Homo sapiens: one gene and its partners. The protein of the gene in region 1 purifies or fractionates together with the protein of each later gene. This does not show direct contact. Each region holds a gene or a part of one and is shown in the gene's direction. Other genes may lie near its edges.

What was found.
Region 2: the proteins of PCDHB15 (region 1) and ARHGAP39 purify together in Homo sapiens (affinity purification with mass spectrometry; one large-scale study listed by BioGRID and IntAct). This does not show direct contact.
Region 3: the proteins of PCDHB15 (region 1) and DERL1 purify together in Homo sapiens (affinity purification with mass spectrometry, with the first as the bait; one large-scale study listed by BioGRID). This does not show direct contact.
Region 4: the proteins of PCDHB15 (region 1) and CRTC3 purify together in Homo sapiens (affinity purification with mass spectrometry; one large-scale study listed by BioGRID and IntAct). This does not show direct contact.
Region 5: the proteins of PCDHB15 (region 1) and HIGD1A purify together in Homo sapiens (affinity purification with mass spectrometry, with the first as the bait; one large-scale study listed by BioGRID). This does not show direct contact.
Region 6: the proteins of PCDHB15 (region 1) and SLC25A19 purify together in Homo sapiens (affinity purification with mass spectrometry; one large-scale study listed by BioGRID and IntAct). This does not show direct contact.
Region 7: the proteins of PCDHB15 (region 1) and AP3S1 purify together in Homo sapiens (affinity purification with mass spectrometry; one large-scale study listed by BioGRID and IntAct). This does not show direct contact.

Annotation. Positions count from the first base shown.
Region 1 is NC_000005.10:141,244,094-141,248,194, forward strand, and holds the start of PCDHB15 (protocadherin beta-15 precursor), read left to right. Parts: upstream 1-1,301; 5' UTR 1,302-1,485; coding exon 1,486-3,849; 3' UTR 3,850-4,101. UniProt on the Homo sapiens protein: Potential calcium-dependent cell-adhesion protein. May be involved in the establishment and maintenance of specific neuronal connections in the brain.
Region 2 is NC_000008.11:144,532,347-144,535,846, reverse strand, and holds part of ARHGAP39 (rho GTPase-activating protein 39), read left to right. Parts: intron 1-1,644; coding exon 1,645-1,718; intron 1,719-2,521; coding exon 2,522-2,721; intron 2,722-3,450; coding exon 3,451-3,500.
Region 3 is NC_000008.11:123,015,487-123,018,302, reverse strand, and holds part of DERL1 (derlin-1), read left to right. Parts: intron 1-2,717; coding exon 2,718-2,816. UniProt on the Homo sapiens protein: Functional component of endoplasmic reticulum-associated degradation (ERAD) for misfolded lumenal proteins. Forms homotetramers which encircle a large channel traversing the endoplasmic reticulum (ER) membrane.
Region 4 is NC_000015.10:90,606,423-90,609,922, forward strand, and holds part of CRTC3 (CREB-regulated transcription coactivator 3), read left to right. Parts: intron 1-955; coding exon 956-1,056; intron 1,057-3,500. UniProt on the Homo sapiens protein: Transcriptional coactivator for CREB1 which activates transcription through both consensus and variant cAMP response element (CRE) sites.
Region 5 is NC_000003.12:42,784,950-42,787,490, reverse strand, and holds part of HIGD1A (HIG1 domain family member 1A, mitochondrial), read left to right. Parts: intron 1-1,328; coding exon 1,329-1,463; intron 1,464-2,170; coding exon 2,171-2,220; 3' UTR 2,221-2,541. UniProt on the Homo sapiens protein: Proposed subunit of cytochrome c oxidase (COX, complex IV), which is the terminal component of the mitochondrial respiratory chain that catalyzes the reduction of oxygen to water. May play a role in the assembly of respiratory supercomplexes.
Region 6 is NC_000017.11:75,282,934-75,286,433, reverse strand, and holds part of SLC25A19 (mitochondrial thiamine pyrophosphate carrier), read left to right. Parts: coding exon 1-130; intron 131-2,840; coding exon 2,841-3,011; intron 3,012-3,500. UniProt on the Homo sapiens protein: Mitochondrial transporter mediating uptake of thiamine diphosphate into mitochondria. It is not clear if the antiporter activity is affected by the membrane potential or by the proton electrochemical gradient.
Region 7 is NC_000005.10:115,865,935-115,869,434, forward strand, and holds part of AP3S1 (AP-3 complex subunit sigma-1), read left to right. Parts: intron 1-735; coding exon 736-827; intron 828-3,500. UniProt on the Homo sapiens protein: Part of the AP-3 complex, an adaptor-related complex which is not clathrin-associated. The complex is associated with the Golgi region as well as more peripheral structures.

The DNA of each region.
Region 1 (4,101 bases):
ATGACATTTTAGGTCATTCTGAGTTATTTCACATTACTATTTAAAGGGCATAGGAAATAGCTACCTTATGAACATGTTGTCTTTGTTTATCCATCTTATATAATGAACTTGAATCCCAGAAGAAGAGGGAATTTCTACAGTAGGAGGAGAACCTATCTGTCAGAATGTTTAAATTAATTGTGATTTATTAATGGATCCATTTAACAAATATTTATTGAGCACGTACCATGTGCCAGGGATTATTTTAGATATTGGGGATGCAGCAGTGAACAAAATGAAGTTCTAACATGTGAGGTTGAAACAGAAAGGAAACAACTAAATAAGTACATCTATACTACGTCAGATAATAAATACGAGAGAGACAAGGCAGGGCTGGGTACAGCAGCTCATGCCTATAACCCCAGCACTTTGGGAGGCTGAGGCAGGAGGATTGCTTGAGCTCGGAAATTTGAGACCAGCCCGGGCAACATAGCAAGACCTCATCTTTACAAATAATTAAAACATTAGCCAGGCATGGTGATGCGCAACTGTGGTCCCAGCTACAGTTGCTGAGGTGGGGGGATTGCTTGAGCCTGGGTAGTCAAGGCTGCAATGAGCAGTGATTGTGCCACTGCACTCCCTCCTGGACAACAGAGCAAGACCCCATCTCAAAAAAAAAAAAAGGAAAAATGAAAAGAAAAAAAAGAAAAAGCAAAGTAAGAGATATAGGAAGTGCCTTCATATGTATTTTTCCACAGTTTAAAATTTTCATAAAATCATAACTCTCTGACTTTATGTAGAAAGGATACCACACTGGAATTAACGTGTAGCTTTTTCTTGATGTAATCCAACCAATGGGAGCACAATTCTGGTACATAGGCTGTCTAGAATTTGAAAGAAATTAAAGAATTCATTTTGTTTTGCTGATAAATTTTTAAGAAATCACGTGGCTTTATGTTATTATTATTACAAGATGACTGATCACTATTATGTCTTCTTTCACTTCTCAATTTCCCTCAGAACACTACACCCAGACTACAGGCTCTGGAGGGTGGGGACCATGTCTGGGTTGTTTACTGATGTATTTCATAATTTGGCACATAGAGACCAATAATACTCCTTTAAATGAAGAAATTAATAATTACCATTGCGTGATATTGTGATTACATCATTTCCTCCCAATTTCCAAACTCCTAATAGAATAGAGAATAGATCAATTGTAGCAATTCGTTTCGAAGCAAAGACAACGCATGGTGGCGCTGCAGGCTAAGGCTTCAAAAAAAGGAAAAGGAAAAAGCCCATGAAATGCTACTAGCTACTTCAGACCTCTTTCAGCCTAAGAGGAAAGCCTGTTAGCAGAGCACGGACCAGTGTCTCCGGAGAATGCTATTCTCCTACATTTCCGAACAGGTTATCAACGCACAGATCGATCACTGCCTCTGTCCCATCGCTCCCTGAAGTAGCTCTGACTCCGGTTCCTTGAAAGGGGCGTGTACAGAAGTAAAGATGGAGCCTGCAGGGGAGCGCTTTCCCGAACAAAGGCAAGTCCTGATTCTCCTTCTTTTACTGGAAGTGACTCTGGCAGGCTGGGAACCCCGTCGCTATTCTGTGATGGAGGAAACAGAGAGAGGTTCTTTTGTAGCCAACCTGGCCAATGACCTAGGGCTGGGAGTGGGGGAGCTAGCCGAGCGGGGAGCCCGGGTAGTTTCTGAGGATAACGAACAAGGCTTGCAGCTTGATCTGCAGACCGGGCAGTTGATATTAAATGAGAAGCTGGACCGGGAGAAGCTGTGTGGCCCTACTGAGCCCTGTATAATGCATTTCCAAGTGTTACTGAAAAAACCTTTGGAAGTATTTCGAGCTGAACTACTAGTGACAGACATAAACGATCATTCTCCTGAGTTTCCTGAAAGAGAAATGACCCTGAAAATCCCAGAAACTAGCTCCCTTGGGACTGTGTTTCCTCTGAAAAAAGCTCGGGACTTGGACGTGGGCAGCAATAATGTTCAAAACTACAATATTTCTCCCAATTCTCATTTCCATGTTTCCACTCGCACCCGAGGGGATGGCAGGAAATACCCAGAGCTGGTGCTGGACACAGAACTGGATCGCGAGGAGCAGGCCGAGCTCAGATTAACCTTGACAGCGGTGGACGGTGGCTCTCCACCCCGATCTGGCACCGTCCAGATCCTCATCTTGGTCTTGGACGCCAATGACAATGCCCCGGAGTTTGTGCAGGCGCTCTACGAGGTGCAGGTCCCAGAGAACAGCCCAGTAGGCTCCCTAGTTGTCAAGGTCTCTGCTAGGGATTTAGACACTGGGACAAATGGAGAGATATCATACTCCCTTTATTACAGCTCTCAGGAGATAGACAAACCTTTTGAGCTAAGCAGCCTTTCAGGAGAAATTCGACTAATTAAAAAACTAGATTTTGAGACAATGTCTTCGTATGATCTAGATATAGAGGCATCTGATGGCGGGGGACTTTCTGGAAAATGCTCTGTCTCTGTTAAGGTGCTGGATGTTAACGATAACTTCCCGGAACTAAGTATTTCATCACTTACCAGCCCTATTCCCGAGAATTCTCCAGAGACAGAAGTGGCCCTGTTTAGGATTAGAGACCGAGACTCTGGGGAAAATGGAAAAATGATTTGCTCAATTCAGGATGATGTTCCTTTTAAGCTAAAACCTTCTGTTGAGAATTTCTACAGGCTGGTAACAGAAGGGGCGCTGGACAGAGAGACCAGAGCCGAGTACAACATCACCATCACCATCACAGACTTGGGGACTCCAAGGCTGAAAACCGAGCAGAGCATAACCGTGCTGGTGTCGGACGTCAATGACAACGCCCCCGCCTTCACCCAAACCTCCTACACCCTGTTCGTCCGCGAGAACAACAGCCCCGCCCTGCACATCGGCAGTGTCAGCGCCACAGACAGAGACTCGGGCACCAACGCCCAGGTCACCTACTCGCTGCTGCCGCCCCGGGACCCGCACCTGCCCCTCACCTCCCTGGTCTCCATTAACACGGACAACGGCCACCTGTTCGCTCTCCAGTCGCTGGACTACGAGGCCCTGCAGGCTTTCGAGTTCCGCGTGGGCGCCACAGACCGCGGCTTCCCGGCGCTGAGCAGCGAGGCGCTGGTGCGAGTGCTGGTGCTGGACGCCAACGACAACTCGCCCTTCGTGCTGTACCCGCTGCAGAACGGCTCCGCGCCCTGCACCGAGCTGGTGCCCCGGGCGGCCGAGCCGGGCTACCTGGTGACCAAGGTGGTGGCGGTGGACGGCGACTCGGGCCAGAACGCCTGGCTGTCGTACCAGCTGCTCAAGGCCACGGAGCCCGGGCTGTTCGGCGTGTGGGCGCACAATGGCGAGGTGCGCACCGCCAGGCTGCTGAGCGAGCGCGACGTGGCCAAGCACAGGCTAGTGGTGCTGGTCAAGGACAATGGCGAGCCTCCGCGCTCGGCCACCGCCACGCTGCAAGTGCTCCTGGTGGACGGCTTCTCTCAGCCCTACCTGCCGCTCCCAGAGGCGGCCCCGGCCCAAGCCCAGGCCGACTCGCTTACCGTCTACCTGGTGGTGGCATTGGCCTCGGTGTCTTCGCTCTTCCTCTTCTCGGTGTTCCTGTTCGTGGCAGTGCGGCTGTGCAGGAGGAGCAGGGCGGCCTCAGTGGGTCGCTGCTCGGTGCCCGAGGGCCCCTTTCCAGGGCATCTGGTGGACGTGAGCGGCACCGGGACCCTTTCCCAGAGCTACCAGTACGAGGTGTGTCTGACGGGAGGCTCTGAAAGTAATGATTTCAAGTTCTTGAAGCCTATATTCCCAAATATTGTAAGCCAGGACTCTAGGAGGAAATCAGAATTTCTAGAATAATGTAGGTATCTGTAGCTTTCCGACCGTCTGTTAATTTTGTCTTCCTCACTTTTCACCTTAGTTTTTTTTAACCCTTTAGTAATCTTGAATTCTACTTTTTTTTAAATTTCTACTGTTGTCTTTAGTAATGTTACTCATTTCCTTTGTCTGATTGTTAGTTTTCAAATTATTGTATTATTATAAATATTTTATATCAGGAAAGTTCATATTTCTGAATAAATTAATAGTATTCATTCCTGAAGGGTGATATGA
Region 2 (3,500 bases), on another chromosome or scaffold:
CCTACAGAGGAGTAAACTGAGGCACAGAGAGACTGCATTATGATCACCTTCATCAGCTGAGAGGCGGTGGCCCCAGTGTATCCCAGTCACAGAGTGTTGGAGGGTGTCCCAGTCCCAAGCAGGCTCAGGCTGGGGTGTTTGTCCCACCAGGGGCCTGGGGACAGGAGATCAGGGCCTGTCTTCCCGCAGGGACAGCAAGCAGGAGGCCCAGCCCTGCCGTCTGCCCCAGGCCCCCCAGCCTAGTGACTACATGTCCCAGCTGCTGAGCTGAGGCCCTGGGTTTCTGCCGCCTTCCTGCAAAGCTCATTCCCTCCTTGCCTTCTTGAGGCTCTGAAGCCTGGGTCCAGTGTGCGTGGGCACCATCCATTCTAGAAAAACAAGGGTACCTCATAGCCTGCCCAGAGGGGCCCTTGGTTCCACATGGTCCCACGCTGGAGGCTGGGGCCACATCCTCTGCCAAGACCTGTGGTCCCAAGGACCATGACAGATTTTCTAGGACCTAAACGTCTATGAAAAAAAAAATTCATTTTGGTTCCTCTAAAAAAGAGTCTCCTTAGCAGTCACATGTCAACTATTCTGTGATAATTAGAGATGGACTCAAGACACGTGTGCACTTTTTTTTAACCTGGTCCAAGGACCCCATGCCCTCAGCTGTCCACCAGAAACTGCTCCTTCAAAGAAGACAAAGGTGTTCCGATTGGGGGTCAGGATCCAGAGGCCCCCCTCACCCTGGCAGGCGGTAGGCGCTGGGCGCTGGGGCAGGTCTCATGTCCAGAAGCACAGGGTCCTGTCCATCTGTCCGAGGTCCATGGCTCCCCTGGCCCCAGACAGCTTCTCTTGGCGTGTTCTCTCATCTGCTGCTTCCCGACCTGGAGCAGGAAGGTGCCGCGCCTTCCAGACCCAGCCTGGGAATCCTCTCCCCTCTAGCACCTTCCCCTGGGCTCTGTGTCTGGAGACTCCCCAGGCTGAGGTCCCTGAGTCCCTCATCAGGTGCTGACTCAGGCACACTGCCCCTCCCCTCAGGGACCCTGCTGTCGGGCTGAGTTTTAGGAAGCCCCTCCTTTGAGAAAGGAGACTGGGCCCTCTCATTGCTGCCTCAGTCCTTCAGAAGAGCCCAGAGGTGGTACTTCAGGCCCAGGGCTGCAGCAGAGCTGGGCTTGCTGTGCAGATAGCTCAGTGCCTGCCTCCCCCAGCACTGGCTGCGGGTGCTGGGTAGGTGGAAATGACTCCTCCAGGGGCTCCTGCCCACAGCCTAAAAGCCAGGGAGGGGCCTGAAGCAGAGAAGAGTCAAATACCTGGACAGCTCCCTGGGTCAGGCCCCGGGGAGGGAGCAGTGGGGTCTAGAGGCCCTCAGACCCAGGTCCTGCCCTTCCTGTTCCTGCGTGGCCGTAGGAGGGCAGGTGGAGCTGCCAGGCGGTTCCTCCCAAGCCTGTCCCTCTGCAGGTGGGGAAGTGCTCCTTGGGCCTCTGCTCTAAAGGACACTGCCTGGGAGAGTGTGAGGACCCGCTGTGCTGGGCAGGGGGTGACCGGGGCAAGGCCAGCCCAGCCCCCCAGGGCCCTCGAAGGAGCTGTGTCTGCTCACCCCTCTCCTGGCCCCACACCCACACACCCACATCAGGCTGATCAGGCCCCTTTCCTTTCCAGGGGTGGCGATAAGCACGTATGCCAAGTACTGTTACCACAAGCTACAGAAGGCAGCCCTGACCGGGGCCAAGAAGGTACGGGTGCGCCTGGGGGGCCGGGGAGGGCAGGCGGGGACACAGAGACCCTTGGTGGACAGCCCCAGGAGCCCCGCCTGCAGTTTGGTATGGGGCAGCAGCGCAGAGGGTGCCACATGGAGCCCGCCTAGGCGGGTGGCGGGGTACGCTAGGCTGACCCCGTGTTCTTCTGGGCTGCACCCTCCCCCGGGGGCTCTTCCTGGGCCCGGACCCCCAGCTCAGGAGCAAGGCAGGCAACGGGCTCAGTCACACCGCACCACAGGGACAGGACCCCGTTCCCTGGACCTGTCCCAAGAGCCTGGCCCCTTCCCCACATCCTCTTCTCTCTGATGCGCTGCTCCCATCATACCCCTCCCCAGCGCTCTCAGCCCTGCCACAGACTTCTGGAAGTTTCACCCCAGCTCAGCTAGCTTGGCCTCTGCTGTGCTCCCCAACAGCCCTGGCCGGCCCAGGACTCACTCCCACCTTCCCAAGGGCCCCTGTGAGCTGGTGCTGTAGACGGTGACTCTGGCCAGGGAGCTGGGCTTGTCCGTAGCTCTAGTTGGAGCCAGGAGTTCACAGGGATGAGAGGAGGGGGAGGCAGAGCCAGGGGCAGCCCAGGAGGAGTTAGGGTTTGGGGGGCGAGGAGGGCTGGTCCAGGGATGGACAGTGGCCTGGGGAAACACCACACTCGGACCCAGGTGTGTGGGGCAGGAATTCTGAAGAGCGCCACCCACCTATGTTCGGGGAAAGAAGACAACCGGGGTGGCGGGGGGTCCTGAGGATGGCCAGGCCAGACCAGGACGGAGCCTCTGTCTTCACAGGGGCTGAAGAAGCCCAACGTGGAGGAGATCCGGCATGCCAAGAACGCCGTGTTCAGCCCGTCCATGTTCGGCAGCGCACTGCAGGAGGTCATGGGCATGCAGAGAGAGCGCTACCCCGAGCGCCAGCTGCCCTGGGTGCAGACACGGCTCTCTGAGGAGGTGCTGGCGCTCAACGGTGACCAGACAGAGGGCATCTTCAGGTGCCACGGCAACCCCGGGCGCCGGGTGTGGGGGCCACAGCCATGTGTCCACCATGCATCTGTGGCATGCAGGGGCCATTAAGCCTCAGGCCCACTGGGCTGCTTCCGCACCCATACCTGAGAGCAGATGGAAGGGTGGGGCCACAGTGTGGAAGCTGACCCTGAGGGTGTGCAGGCCAGGAGAGAGGGCAGGACCCATTCCAAAGAGGCAGCACAGCCAGCCAGGGAGGGCGCCCCTGCAGAGACGGCCACCAGGGGTCCAGAGCGTGCTTGGACACCAGCCATGGGTAGCCTGGAGTGGGAGCCTCAGATGACAGGCAGCCCTTGTCTGTGAACAGGGATGGCACAGGGTGCCACCCACTCCCATGACTCACCTGTCAGGGCAAGGGGTACCCAGGCCCCAGGAGGGCAGCTGGGGAAACTGAGGCTTGCAGGTTGAGCCCCAGTGGCCCTTTGGTGAGGGCATCCACCCAGGGAGCCAGCAGGGGTCCAGGGAGGGACGGTGGCCTGGGGAAGCACCACACTCGGACGCAGGTGTGTGGGGCAGGAATCCTGAAGAGCGCCACCCACCCACGTTCGTGGGAAAGAGGCCAACCGGGGTGGCGGGGGGTCCTGAGGTTTTGCTCCCCTCCCCGGGTCAGCAGGGGCCTACCGGAGGGAGTGTCCAGGCGGAATCATGAAGCCGCAGCACAGGCTCCTGTTGCCTGAGACCTGCCCTGTGCCCTGCAGGGTCCCTGGGGACATTGACGAGGTGAATGCCCTGAAGCTGCAGGTGGACC
Region 3 (2,816 bases), on another chromosome or scaffold:
AGGCTGTCGAAGAACGGGCCAGTTAAATCACCATCTGGGTGTCACAGCCTGCCTGACAATCATGCCTAATCTCATATCAGGGATATGCAGTAATAGCTTGCATTTGAAAGCTTTAAAAAAACAAACAAACCAAACCCTTCCACATCTTGCTAATTTTAATGTTTTGCAGTTCTGTCATTCCTCTAAGGGATCAGTGAGGGCAGTAAAACTTGAGCAGGCCTCCTCTTTCTCCCCTTCCTTTTATAGGGTAGGGGTATGTTTTTCAAAGACTTTTCAAATTGTGAACTGTAATATACAGAGATATACCATATTGGTGGTTGTGGTGTGTGTGTTTTTCTTTAAGAGAATAAAAAGAAACTTGTTTCTCTTCTGAGCCTTGAATTGCCTTCAGGCTAAAAAAACAAATGACCAATCTGGTTTCTAATTATCAAAGGACATAATAACAGCAGGTTTGGCTTTCTGATCTAGGTTTATCAAGTAGGATGGCAGATGCATCAATTAAAAAAAGCTTGGTGCTTTTGGGGGGCAGCCAACAGTTACTTTACTTTAAATGGCCATATTCTAACTTAACGGCTTGTAGCTACTTCTCAGTTGTGGGCAACACAGGATACAAGATTCTAGTGGCAAAATCAGCGAGCCCTGGAGCCTGCCTTCCACTTGAACTTTCTCTGTTGGGGGAAGTCCTTCTGCTAAATTTTGCATAAAGATCAGATGACAAAATACAGCTCCTTGCAAAAGCAGTAACTGCTTTGAAATTACCATAAATTTTTGTTGATTATGTATAATTGGGTATCTTTTTATACTAATTATTTGCATTTAATTTCACTATCTACTTAAGCAGTGGAGATGGCTTCCATATTGTCTTAGAGTGAGTAGCAAAGCAAGACAGCCCTAGCATTTTCTCCAGCAAGTGTTCTATTTTATTATGTACTTTGGAGGAATATTATTGTACCAGAAGGCATGGATGTTGAGAAACCAGCACTTGGAAAATACATTTTGATTTAATGGTAAAGCTGTATTTGTTTAAAATGGAGGAGGTGAGTATAGGAAGGTATAACTGCTTTTCTAAATGGAATGCTGATACATTTGTATCACCATTTTCCATTCCATTTAGAGTAGTTATATCTTCTCTGTACACACTAAATTTTGTGTTTAAAAGGGGTTTTTGGCCAGGCGTGGTTGCTCACGTCGGTAATCCCAGCATTTTGGGAGGCCGACGGGTGGATCACGAGGTCAGGAGATCGAGACCATCCTGGCTAACATGGTGAAACCCTGGCTCCACTAAAAATACAAAAATTAGCTGGACATGGTAGCGGGCGCCTGTTGTCCCAGCTACTCGGGAGGCTGAGGCAGGAGAATTGCTTGAACCCGGGAGGTGGAGGTTGCAGTGAGCTGAGATCATGCTACTGCACTCCAGCCTGGTGACAGAGTGAGACTCCGTCTCAAAAAAAAACAAAAAAACAAAAACCCGAGTTGTTGTCTGTTTTGGGAAGAGGCATGAAGGTATCGAGTATGATGTAAACAGACTCCAGTCACTGACTGCTGTCCCTTCCCAGGCAGGATGCATGTAGTATAACAAGTAGTGCAGGGCGCAGGCTCTGGAACCAGGCTGACTAGGTTGGAATCCTGTCACTTTCGAAGCGCTTCACTCAGTGTTGGCTCAATTTTCTTGTTTATAAAACAGGAGTAATAGTAATGCCTACCTCATGGGGTTATTGTGAAGATCAGATGAATTTATAAGCAGGCAGCACCTAGTGTAAGGCAATAATCACTGAGTAAATTCACATAGTAACTGCTCTAGTATAAGGTCAAGTATAAAGCCTGTCCTCTTCAGGGTTTCTGCTGTGGACAAGTCACCTGTCATGACTTACTCTTGCTGCCAAGAAGGGTTTAAGCGGAGGTATCAGATCATGCTCTCTGCCTTCAAGCAAAATTTTAAACATTAGGATCTGCTAAGTGGAATAGGTTTAAACACATTCTCAGTTTACTAATAAAAGAGTCAAAGATGGGAAATAGTTGGAAAATACTATTGAGAGTGTAGGCTTGGGTTTAAGTTCTCTTAGCTGTTCTGTGAACTCTTAGTTTATTAATTTTAAGGTGGGAAATCATCTAACCGTCTGGGGCCCCAGCTCTCCCACCATCTGTGAGAAGGGAAGAATGTACCTGGAAGGCAGATTCTGAATAAATTTTAAAACATACCCATACTTCCAACATAGAAAGCCTTCTTCCCCTGTCTCCTTTGATGGGCTCAGCTGAGAGCCTTTTAGAAATGCTGTGCAAGGCTCAAACATGCAGGCTGTGGATTTGGCCTTTGAAAGTGAATGTATTTTGTATCCTTTGATCCAGTTTGAGCCATATTTAGATATACCAAGATGCTATCAGTCATTCTTTGGTTGCTGGGCTTGTGGGTGTAATATTTTTGTTTCCATACTGTTCTGCATGGATTACTTTTATAAGCAGAGAAAAAAACGTTCAGAGTGTGAATTTAGCTGAAATCTGAATACATTTAAGAAACATGAAAAACGAATGCCGTCTGTGGTCAGGTCATGGGGCTGAGTACAGAAAAGACAAAGTTAAATAAGACGTCCCTCGCTGCCTTCAACATGACAAGTGCCATGGGAACAGCAGGAGAGGGAGGTGTTCTCGGAGGTCAGATAACTATGTGGAAGTGACTTTGTTCTCTTCTCTCCGTTTGTGTCCCCGTCTTTCTGCACCAGGTACCGCTGGCTGCCCAGTAGGAGAGGAGGAGTATCAGGATTTGGTGTGCCCCCTGCTAGCATGAGGCGAGCTGCTGATCAGAATGGCGGAGGCGGGAG
Region 4 (3,500 bases), on another chromosome or scaffold:
ATGGTGACGCACGTCTATAATCCCAGCTACACGGGAGGCTGAGGGAGAAGAATTTCTTGAACACGGGAGGCAGATGTTGCAGTGAGCCGAGATCACACCACTGCACTCCAGCCTGGGCAACAGAGCGAGACTCTGTCTCAGAAAAAAATAATAAAATAAAATAAAAAAAATATTGAGGCCCTCAAAGAGTATTTGTTTATGTGAGAATATCTATTGATATTAGAAATTAAACTGAGAGATTTTTTAAAGATACTAGTGAATTAAAAAAATAATAAGCCCATTACATGTTAACATAAATTATATCTTTTTGAAAAGAAACACAAAAAAAGTATTGAAAATAGTGACAATGTTCACCTTTTACAAATCCCTCCAAGGCAGCTGGGTGGTCTGTGCCTGCGCTCAGCGGTGGGGGCATCACACCTCACGTGGCCGCTGGGGAAGCCCGCCGTGCTTGGGAGAGAGCGAGAGTGAAAAAACAGAGGACACTTTACTATCATTTTGAGAATAGTCTTGATCTTACCTTCTCCCTGGAAGGGTTTTGCAAACCACTGCTCTAAGTGATCCTTTACTTAGAAACAGCTACTCTCAGGTGGAGAAAACCTAGTGCAGCCACAGGCTAAACTGGCCACAGCCAGCTTCCGAGCTGGGAAGAATAGGAAGCTCTTAGACGGAAGCCATGAATCCGAGGCCCACCTTGTTGAACTTGATCGCCATGCCATCAGCTTCAGCATATAAGGCTATATGAGTCTAAGTTAAAATATTCTGGAGTGTGGGCGATCCTCAGAGGCTGTTAATTGATATAAAGAACTTCAGGTAGGTCCTAACCCCTTATTTGATGGTTGATTATAAATCAGTTATTCTTGCCTTCTTTCCTGTTGGTAATATTCAACAAAGACTATTGCATTTTCACTAAGGAAAACGGATTTTCAGCCAGCCTCTCTCCTCCCCTCCTTAGGACCAATTCTGATTCTGCTCTTCACACGAGTGCTCTGAGTACCAAGCCCCAGGACCCCTATGGAGGAGGGGGCCAGTCGGCCTGGCCTGCCCCATACATGGGTAAGACACACAGGCCACTGCTGACAGCAGCTGTGCTTGCTCATTCTGTCCTAGGAACCAAGGGAGAGAGAAGCTGAAGTGGTGTTTGCGCTTCCCGGTTCAGTGATCTTAGAGAGGCAGCTCGTGGCAGGGAAGCGTGTGTGTCCATGATGCAGTCAGGATGGATGGAGCTCCCAGCGTCCCCTGCCTCTGCCCTGCTTCCTCCACAGCACGCTCTCCCTCTTGGTGTCTCTTGGCCCTCTTCTGGGCACCCGTCATCTTCTAATAACTTCCTGACTGGTCTCCTGATTTCCAGTCTCACATCCCTTCAATCCAGTTTTATGTTAAGTTCCCCAAGAGTCCTCTTTCCCCACCCAGGATCTGAACAAACTGAGAAATACAACTAGAAGTGACAGTCAGAGCTAGATATCACCTTTATTACTACTAAGACCAGGTTGGAGGAAGTGACTGTCTCTGTAGGTTGGTGGGCCTGCTGAGACTGAACCCCAGCATGAGGCTGACTCCCCCTGAGTGGCTGGCAGCACTGGCCAGTGTGGTCCCCTGGGAGGAGGGGTCAGGCAAGCCTCGGGGAGGGAGGGTGGAGCAGAGGCCTGCTGCCTTGAGATGGGGGAAGAGGAGGTCGGGCTGGAACTGTGCATCACCTGCTCAGTTGCCCCCTGGCCACTGTGAGTAAGGGGATGGAGAGAGGCCAGGAGTAACCCGGAGTGGGGAAGAGGCCCACTCATGCCATCTCACAGCTCTGCTTCCAGAGCGAACCCAAACCTGATCATCTTGCTCTCCCACTTAAAATCCTCAGTGCCACCCCTCACCTTCAGGAGAAAGAGCCCAGATCTTCTTTGGAATGACATGAGCCCCAAGGCCTGGCTCCTGTCTGCCTCTCTCCCTTTTCTCTCTGCTCCCCCGCCTCACACCCAAGGTAGCCATGCGAACCACTTTGGGTTCTACTGGTGTTTCTTCCTGTTCCTGTCTCTTCCTCTCTCTCTCACTCCTGGCCAGCACCCTCTCCATCCGTAAGCCTCAGCTTGTGTGTGTCCTCATGTCTGTGGAGCCATCCTTGACCTTCCTTCCTCTCAGCTCAGAGTTATCGTGTCCTTCTAACATCCCAGACTGCTCTCTTAGCACCTGCAATGCTTGGCTGCTTTTTTATGTGAACATGCATCTCTTTCTCTGCTCAGTGTAGATTTCTTGAAGGCAGCATCTTAATGGTCTTGTTCTCTCCAGCCCCTAGCACAGTGCCCGGCACAGAGGAGCCCGTACTGATGGAGAAGTGTGAAGAATCACACACTGGCTCACATGTGCACGGCATTTGCCAAAACACCCTCTCGGTGCTGGCACCTGACCTGTACATGAAGTGAGGCTGGTCATTCAGACACATTTCAAGCCTACCTTTCTGGGGTTTATAATCTAGAAAGAACAATGGTCTTGAATTATCCATTCCATATGCAGATTGACTCTTGCCCAGAAACTTTCAGGGCTGTGTATTTGTTCTTGAAACAGGAATAAATAAATCTTTAGCCAAGAAACCAGCTTTTCTGGTTTTCTTTGCTTTTTGGACAATTTAAAGCCTAAATGGCCTCTGTTCCTTCCAGGAGAACACTTATGATCGTATTTCTTTGTATATAGCAGGGATAGTACTGAATAATAATTGTTGCTATATTTGTTCTATTGGTGCAATTCAGAGAAGACTACATTTGCTTAAATGATTGTTTGCTTGTAAACTATGGGAGCTTTCAGAATTGGTTAGGGACATCTACCCATGCTTCCATACATGGGAATATGAAAGTTGGCAGTGATGTTGAAATTGATGTTGGAATTGGATATGGGTGCACTGCTCACTGCTTAGAGGAGTGGGGTGTGTGGGAAGAGGGATGAGTTTAGTTTCAGGATAGGTAGAGATGGGAATATGTAAACAAAGCCTAAAAAAAGCAGAGGCTGTAATCAGTGGGGGTGCCTGTGAGCACAGCAGGATCCTAATCTCCATGGACCGGGAGCCAGCTAGACAGACAGATTTTTACCCTGGAGCTCCTGCATTTCTGCCTCTGCCGATCCTTCATTTACATTACCCTCTGCAAAGTTTACACTTCTCTAGAAAGGGCCAAAGGCCTAGAGAAACAAGGCAATCACAGGTAATTCAAGTGAGGATTTTTTGAGGCTTGCATGCTAAGAAAAAGAAAGTAACTGAAGAAAGAAATTACCTGAGCTGAAGTATTCATTCTTAGCGATGTAGCCTCTGAGAGAAGAGGTGAGAAATGTCAGAAGGGGTAAGTGAGGATGGAATAAGAAAAGCAAAGGAATGTAAACATTGGTCCAGGTAGACAGAGCAATGAGAAAAACAGGAAGAAAGAAAGAAATCCTGGATCAGGGTTCCTGCGTTGACTTGAGAATCGTGGTGGTCTCTCCTTTTCAAATCAGCAGTTAGAAATTGTTGGGCTACAATATCTGAC
Region 5 (2,541 bases), on another chromosome or scaffold:
CCTCCCAAGTAGCTGGGATTACAGGCGCATGCCACCATGCCCGGCTAATTTTTTGTATTTTTAGTAGAGATGACCAGGCTGTTGGCCAGGCTGGTCTCAAACCCCTGATCTCAGGTGATCCACCTGCCTCAACCTCCCAAAGTGCTGGGATGATGGGTGTGAGCTACTGCTCCCAGCCCTAATTTTTTTTTCCTCCTTATGATTTGGAAGTTCTGCGGCTATTCTTACACTGCTTGCTGGTGGTTATCTTTACATTGTCAAACTAGGATGTGTTTTTTTCATCTATTTCCTGTATTAAAATGAATATAAATTTATTCCCTAAGACCTTTAGCACACGTTTTGTTGTGATAATCATAGCCTAATTTCAGATTCTTAATTTTGCTATATTATACCAGTCATTTTCAAGGAACCAGTACAGATTTTTCTGTCTTTATTGCTCACCATTATATCTTAACCATTATGTCTTTATTTCTTGAACTGTCCATTTTGACTCACTGTTTTTATTTGACTGGATATTTTCCTCTAGGTTTTTGTATCAGTACCTGGGTGGCAGCTTGGGAAAGACAGCCCTCCTGTAGTCCCAGTTATTAGGGAGGCTGAGCGAAGAGGATCACCTGAGCCTGGGAGAACAAGGCTGCAGTGAGCTATGATTGTGCGGCTGCACTCCAGCCTGGGCAACAGAGCAAGACCCCATCTCTTAAAAAATAAAATAATAAATCTTAAAAAGAAAACATGGAAGGTCATGTCCTGAATGCTTTTGCCCTCAAAATGAATGAGAGTTTGGCTCTGTATAGAACTCTAGGATCATAATCCTTTTAACTGAAACTAATATTGCTCTATTCTTTTCCTTTATTTACTTCTTCCCAGTACAATATCCCAAAGTTTGAAATATTCAGGCAATGTTTCTCAGTGGTAGTAGTGTGTAGGATTGTCTCTGGTATATTAACTGATTACCTTGAGGGAGGGAAATAGGACAGAGAGGAAATGGAATAAATTCATTCTCTAAGTCAAGACCTTTGGCACACTTTCGTTCTGATAATCATAATCTAGGTTCCTGTTAATTCCCTAGCAGTTTTTTAAAGGAGTTTATCTACTGGCCCCACAAACCCATGTTTTTAAAGATAATCCTGACTTTCTGGATCTGTTGTTGTTTGCTTAAAGATTTTTGGTTTTGATAGGGGAAAACATGAAAAACTCAATTTGTATGTTAGCTAATTAATGATCTGATAAAGAATCCTCATAAAAATAATAGAATGTACATTGACTGATGGTAAAGTCATCTTGGTCCCTTCTCATGCATCTGACATACTTGTTACTTTGTTTTACAGGAATAGCGGGTTTTGCAGCAATTGTTGCATATGGATTATATAAACTGAAGAGCAGGGGAAATACTAAAATGTCCATTCATCTGATCCACATGCGTGTGGCAGCCCAAGGCTTTGTTGTAGGAGCAATGACTGTTGGTAGGTTCCTATAGGAAATTTCAAATTTTCGTTTCTCATTAAGGTATTTCTTTACAAACAAAATAGGTAAATATTTTTAGCTGACCTTTTAGCAGTTGGAGAATATCACTTATACTCATTTTCATGTAAAAAATGAATTAATGAAGATAATTCAAGTAGTGACATAGTTTTTCTATGATATATCCTACTAAGATTTTAAAGAAAAAAAAAATCCTGTCAATCACTGAGTTTATAATTTCATTGAAGAGCCTAGACATGTAATTGGGGTTGATAGTAACATCTGTTATCTGGGAGAGACATACAATTGCTATTTTATTGTGTTTTTAAAGGAGAGATTCTTAAAGTTTAGGTATTACATGCTTCTTCTATTGGCTTTATAATTCATTGACTTTATCTGGTATTATGTAGCAAGAGTGATTCCTTTCAAAGTTACCAGATAAATATTGATTGTTCTTTCAAAGAAATATTGTAACATGTGAAGTAGCCATACCAGCCCTTTGCTACTTGGGAAACTACTGTATGTAACAAGAGTTTTAGAGATTTAAGATGTTTAAGAAGGCAAGAGTATAAGCTTCCTAGGGTCTTATTCCCCTTGTAAATATTCCATGCTAGCAGTGGTGCTACTTTCAGCTATTTTATGAACTGGTTTTTATTTTTGAATATTTAAGAAAATACTGAAATGCTTAACTAGCATTCTTTTTCTTTAGGTATGGGCTATTCCATGTATCGGGAATTCTGGGCAAAACCTAAGCCTTAGAAGAAGAGATGCTGTCTTGGTCTTGTTGGAGGAGCTTGCTTTAGTTAGATGTCTTATTATTAAAGTTACCTATTATTGTTGGAAATAAACTAATTTGTATGGGTTTAGATGGTAACATGGCATTTTGAATATTGGCTTCCTTTCTTGCAGGCTTGATTTGCTTGGTGACCGAATTACTAGTGACTAGTTTACTAACTAGGTCATTCAAGGAAGTCAAGTTAACTTAAACATGTCACCTAAATGCACTTGATGGTGTTGAAATGTCCACCTTCTTAAATTTTTAAGATGAACTTAGTTCTAAAGAAGATAACAGGCCAATCC
Region 6 (3,500 bases), on another chromosome or scaffold:
TGACCCCAGCGCAAAGTACCATGGCATCCTCCAGGCCTCTAGGCAGATTCTGCAGGAGGAGGGTCCGACAGCTTTCTGGAAAGGACACGTCCCAGCTCAGATTCTCTCCATAGGCTATGGAGCTGTCCAAGTAGGTGGCAAGGGACCTGGCCAGACCTCTGGGGTCACGTTGCTCAGTGGAGGAGCAGAGGGAGGGTGAGGCAAGCAGGAATGCCGCGCAGGGCAGGACGGAAGAGGCAGGCCCCACGCTTCCCACCTGCCTCACCCGGGAGCCTTCCTGACCAGCAGTACCGTAGGCATTGCCCTCCGCCATGTCCCTGCGTCTATCCTGTGTGACTTAGGTGTTGCATCTTGGAGACCGATTTGATGTCATGCCTTCTGTGAGGCTTGGCGAAGGACAGCACTAATGCATTTCAGTTTTTGAAATACCACCTTCACATATGTGGTTCATCTGAACTTCACCACACCGTCATGAGGAGGGCAGGGTAGCTGTCATGTGGATCTCAGGGAGGAGAAGTCAGCTGTCCGAGGCCACACAGCCTGCACATGGCGGGGCTAGGGTTAGAACTCATGCTTCGTTCAGTGGAGCACTAGTATAGTCATAGTGCACAGCATGTGATTTTATGCAGTAGATGTGTTTAAGAACCAGCCCTGTACAGTGCAAACCATGGGCCAGGCCCCTGTTGGAAGCACTTCACATACACTCTGTCACAGCAGTCCTTAAGGTAGGGGCTGTTGTCCCTCCCATGTCATGCATGAGAAGACTGAGGTGGACAGAGCTTACATAATTAACCCAACCAAAGCCACTGGCTAGAAAATGGCAGAGCCACGACCCCCACCTAGGCAGCTAGTGCCAGAGATGTCCCTTCCTACTCTTCCTGTGACATCACAGTGACCGCCCAAGTCAGGTGCTTACTGGCTGGGCATGCCCTGCGATCCTGTCTCTGCACTTGTCTGCAAACAGATATTGCAGCATGACGAATAAATACAGCAACAGGATAGTCTCAAGAAGCCAGGCGTGGGCTGGACTCAGTGGCTCACACCTGTAATCCCAGCATCTGAGCCCGGGAGGCGGAGGCTGCAGTGAGCCACGATCATGCCACTGCACTTCAGCCTGGGCAACACAGCCAGACCCTGTCTCAAAAAAAGAAAAGAAGCCAGGCCATCTTCAGTTGGCTGAAGGAAGATCTGAGCATAGCCCTGGTATAGTGGCTCACACCTGTAATCCCATCACTTTGGGAGGCTGAGGTGGGAGGATGGCTTGAGCTCAGGAGTTTGAGACCAGCCTGGGCAACATTAGGGAGACCTCCTCTCTACTAAAAATAAAAAATAAATTAGCCAGATATGGTGGTACACACCTGTCGTCCCAGCTATTCCAGAGGCAGGAGAATAATTTGAGCTAGAGAAGTCAAGGCTGCTGTGAACTGTGATCGAGCCACTGCACTCCAGCCTGGGCAACTGAGCACGACCTTGCCTCAAAAAGCAAAACAGGGCCAAGCTCGGTGGCTCATGTGTGTAATCTCAGCCCTTTGGGAGCCCAAGGCGGGCAGATTGCTTGAGCTCAGGAGTTTGAGACCAGCCTTGGCAACATAGTGAAACCCTGGTTCTACAAAAAATACCAAAATTAGCTGGACATGGTGGCATGCGCCTGTAATCCCAGCTACTTGAGGAGCTGAGGTGAGAGGATCACTGGAGCCCAGGAGGTTGAGGCTGCAGTGAGCCGTGTTTGTGCCACTGTACTCCAGCCTGGGTGACAGAGAGACACTCTTGTCCCTAAAAAAAAAAAAAAAAAAAAAAAAAGAAAGATCTGAATGTAAGGGGGTCACCCTGTGGAACATGCTCCCAAAAGAATCTGCCCCAGAAAAGAATGATTCTCGAACAGTGCCGCCACCAGGTGCCGCCGCCAGCTGCACTGAAGGGGTCCCTGCAGGAATCAGAGCATGGCCGTCTTCCCCAGTTCTCAGAAAACTAAGTTAGCCAGTGACATTTTCTGATATACATTGTTCTCATGTATCTTTTTTATTTTTTCTTGAGACAGAGTCTCACTCTGTTGCCCAGGCTGGAGTGCAGTGGCGCAATCTCAGCTCACTGCAACCTCCGCCTCCTGGGTTCAGGCGATTCTTCTGCCTCAGCCTCCCAAGTAGCTGGGGTTACAGGCCCACGCCACCATGCCTGGCTAATTTTTGTATTTTTAGTAGAGACAGGGTTCCACCATATTGGCCAGGCTGGTCTCCAACTCCTGACCTCATGATCTGCCCACCTCGGCCTTCCAAAGTGCTGGGATTACAGGCGTGGGCCACTGCACCCAGTCTTTTTTTTGAGACCGAGTCTTGCTCTGTCGCCCGGGCTGGAGAGCGCAGTGGCATGATCTTGGCTCAGTGCAGCTCTGCCTCCCGGGTTCAAGTGATTCTCCTGCCTCAGCCCCCCAAGTACCTGGGACTACAGGTGCCCGCCACCATGCCTGACTAATTTTTGTATTTTTAGTAAAGACAGGGTTTCACTATGTTGACCCGGCTGGTCTCGAACTTGTGACCTCGTGATCTGCCCGCCTCGGCCCCCCAGAGTGCTGGGATTACAAGTGTGAGCCACTGCACCTGGCCCCCATATATCTTCTTAACCCTTTGAGTGTCTGACTCTACTCAAGTATCAAATGGCATCCGAGTTTTGCGTAGAATGTTGTATTTATCATATGCTGTCACTGCTCAAGAAGAACATTTCCTGACCTTTTCCTCGCCCCTCCACCTGGGCCCCAGCCGGGTCACGGGTGATGTATTTGGGGAGTATTTGGTCCTCACCCTCATCCTTTGGGCTGTCGGTGACTTCTTCACTTACTCTTGCAGTTCTTGTCATTTGAAATGCTGACGGAGCTGGTCCACAGAGGCAGCGTGTATGACGCCCGGGAATTCTCAGTGCACTTTGTATGTGGTGGCCTGGCTGCCTGTATGGCCACCCTCACTGTGCACCCCGTGGATGTTCTGCGCACCCGCTTTGCAGCTCAGGGTGAGCCCAAGGTGAGTGGCCAGGAGCCAGACCGGGGAAGCCCAAATAAGGAAGGTGTTGTCACAGGGGTAGCATTCTTTATTTTTTATTTATTTATTTATTTATTTTTGTTTTGTTCTGTTTTGTTTTGTTTGAGACAGAATCTCGCTCTGTCATGCAGGCTGGAGTGCAGTGGTGCGATCTTGGCTTACTGCAAGCTCCACCTCCCGAGTTCAAGCGATTCTCCTGCCTCAGCCTCCCGAGTAGCTGGGATTACAGGCACCCGCCACCACGCCTGGCTAATTTTTTTTGTATTTTTAGTAGAGACGGGGTTTCACCATGTTAGCCAGGATGGTCTCGATCTCCTGACCTCACGATCCGCCCGCCTCGGCCTCCCAAAGTGCTAGGATTACAGGCATGAGCCACTGCGCCCGGCCTATTTTTTATTTATTTATTTATTTATTTTGAGACAGAGTCTCGCTCTGTTGCCAGGCTGGAGTGCAGTGGTGCGATCTATTTTT
Region 7 (3,500 bases), about 25 Mb from region 1:
ATTACAGGCACGTGCCACCACACCCAGCTATTTTTGTATTTTTAGTAGAGACGGGGTTTCACTGTGTTGGCCAGGATGGTCTCGATCTCCTGACCTTGTGATCCACCCATCTCGGCCTCTCAGAGTGCTGGGATTACAGGCATGAGCCACTGTGCCCGGCCAGGACGCTGACTCTTACTGGAATATGAATTGCTTGGTCCAGGTTAATAAATGTTTATTGACCCAATCCTTGGCTTTAGATCGGCTTATATAAAGATGAGTAAGATGGATGGACTCTTACCTCAGTCTATATTTAGTAAAGGTTAAACTTAATTGGAAGCTCCATAGTTCTATTTCTTTCCTCCATTCAAATATAGATTAGCTACACTATTTATATCTTTACCTTTCTGATTCAGTTTACTCATTTGTAAGATAATCAGCTTTGACTAGTTAATATCTAGTTTCCCTTTTACCAGTGTATGTAATTCATCTAATATTTTTTCTTGTTGGTTTTTGAAACTTAGAAATGTGTTACTTTTATTATAGTGGTAAATATAAATAATTGGGTTTTTTTTCTTTTTCATCAAAAAATACTGGGTTTTGCTTCTGTAAGGTATAATTTAAGTCACTTCTCCAAGGACCCCTCTCTTAGATGGATTTCCCAGACAGATATTGCTACCTTTGATTTTAAAAATTCTTAAAATGCTATTAAACCTATACACTCCATCCTAATATATATGAATTATTCTTCCTCAGAGTGAAGATACACAACAGCAAATCATCAGGGAGACTTTCCATTTGGTATCTAAGAGAGATGAAAATGTTTGTAATTTCCTAGAAGGAGGATTGTAAGTAAAGCATTTCATAGACATTTCTAAGTTTTGACTATGTGATTAAAATATATACTGTTTAATCAGTTTATGGTAAAAGTTTTCTACTTTTGATTAATTGGATTAGGTGAATTAATTGCCACCTATGTTAGCTATAAATCTAACTTAAAGAATTATTTTTAAAAGATATGCAATCTTTTTTCCTCTTAAAAATTTTGGAAGGGAATTTTATATAAAGGTAATATATTAAATCGTAAAAATTCCAACATTACAGGGAAGTATAAAATGTAAAATAAGAATCTCTCAACCTTAGTCCTTCTACCCAATTTCTTGTGTATCCTTCTAGAAAATAGTTTGTATTGACTAACATATAAAGTATGTTATATGTGTTGACTAACCTACAACCTTAAAATTTTTATTTATGAGATCACACTTTGTATGCTCATTTGCATGTTGCTGGTTCTCAGTATTTTCAAAAGCTTTGCATAGAAACACATCTAGGACAAGCTTATTCTTTTTAATGACTACAGAGTATTCCTTTTTGTGAATGTTCATAAAAATTAGATTACATTCTTTATTTTACTGTTACAAGACTGAAGTCTGTTTTTCAAATATACCTAATTCAGCTAATCAATTTTTCTATTTTTAAAATGAATAAGAATATTGCCAAATATTACAAACAAATACTTTTAAACTAATAACTTCCATGAAAATGGTTTGTTCTCAAACATAAATCAGTCAGAGAAACTTAGAATTTTCTGTATTTTACTGTGTATGATGGATGAGAAATACTCTGGATAACAGGGAATCCATGGTCATAAGGTACTTTTTATCATGTGGAACACTTAACTTGGGTTTCCTGAAAGATTATATCATGCTGTCCTTAAATGTCCAATACATACTTACAAATTTTGCTGTTAACTCAAGGCTTCTAATTTAATAATTGAGACAAGTGTACCTGCTTCTGTTTTTGAATTTTACTTGTACTTATTTAATTTTAGTTGTCTTTGACATTACTATCACTTCCTCTCATCCTAGCCTCTTGATTTCTTATCTCCTAGGAAACTTACCACCCAGCACAGTGCACTGCATGTAAGAACTTGATTAATCTTACTAGGGTGCTATTTGAATTAGAAATTGTGGCTGGAAATTGTGATTGTTCTTTTTTAACCTTACAAAAAATAGAAAGCAAATATTGCAGCAGAGATGAGGCCTCACATCTAGTTTAATCCTAGTTTTGTCACTAACTAGCTGATTTCCTTGGACAGGTTACTTAAATTCTCAGGCCTCAGTTTTCTCCTCTATAAAATGAGTTATTTGGACTAACAGGATTTCTCAGTCCTGTGGTTTTATATGATGTATTACATTCTGTACAGGAATTTTTGTCAGTATTATACTATAGCTTAAAGATAAGATTATATTTTTAAAGGCAAAATATGTACTTGCCGCATTAATATTTTGCTTGCTTTTAATAGCATTACTGGCCTTTTTGAAACTTATATTCTTCAGAAGTTTGCTGTCCTTTTAAAGTAAAGCAAAAGTTTTAAGATAATCACTAAATCGCTGATTCAGAATGGAGTAAAGCCTCCTATTTGTGTTCTTTTTGCCTCTTTCAGGGAACAATTGCAGTCATAGTCTGTAAATATACTCTCAGAATCTTTAAATTGCATGTAGATATTTTTAAATTAAACATCTTCTCTAGAAGAGTATCTAGCATAGTAGGAAATTTTTATTCTTGTCAAAGATCATTTCTCCTTTTGCTATTAGAAGACATAGAAGTAGTATATACCTTGGGAAGTTGTTTCTACAGAACTTATAAGTTTAGTATTATTTTTACTGTGTAAGAAATAGATGCTGGCCAGGCGCAGTGGCTCACGCCTGTAATCCTAGCATTTTGGGAGGCCTAGGCGTGCAGATCTCCTGAGCTCAGGAGTTCGAGACCAGCCTGGGCAACATGGTGAAACCCCATCTCTACTAAAAGTACAAAAATCAGCCAGGTGTGGTGGTGTGCGCCTGTAATTGCAGCTACTTTGGTGGCTGAGGCAGGAGAATTGCTTGAAGCCAGGAGGCAGAGGCTGCAGTGAGCTGAGATAGCACCATTGCACTCCAGCCTGGGTGACAGAGTGAAACTCTGTCTCAAAAAGAAAGAGAGAGAGAGAGACAGAGAAAGAGAGGATGAAGGGAGGGAGGGAGGGAAGGAAGGAAGGAAGGGAGGGAGGGAGGGAGGGAGGGAGGGAGGGAGAGATGCCATTTTCCCATATTCTGTTGGGATGGATGTTAGTTTAATTTTGGTTACATATAGCCTTGATTGTAAATTATGTAAGTGTTTAGGGGTCTTTTAAGAAGGTGAATTCATTATTGTAAACTTAACTATGAAATAGCTAAACTATATTTAGAAAAATATGTTTGGAATGATTCCTAAATTATTATTTCTAAAATACTAAAATTCCAGTCATTATAAATAAAAGTATTTCATGAAAGAGTTTAGTATCTTAGCTCAGTTTTCTTGCATTTATGTCAAAACAATGTAATTTTGGAAGAGATCTTGACGGTAAATCTATCCAAAACTTAAGAAGTGTCATTCTTCTTTTTTTTCTGGTTGATAATCAGTCTTAAGCTGTGTAACTTACTGTGACGTATGGAGTTAAATCTAGTAAGCACTTACAAATGCCCCATGATCTAATTTCCGCC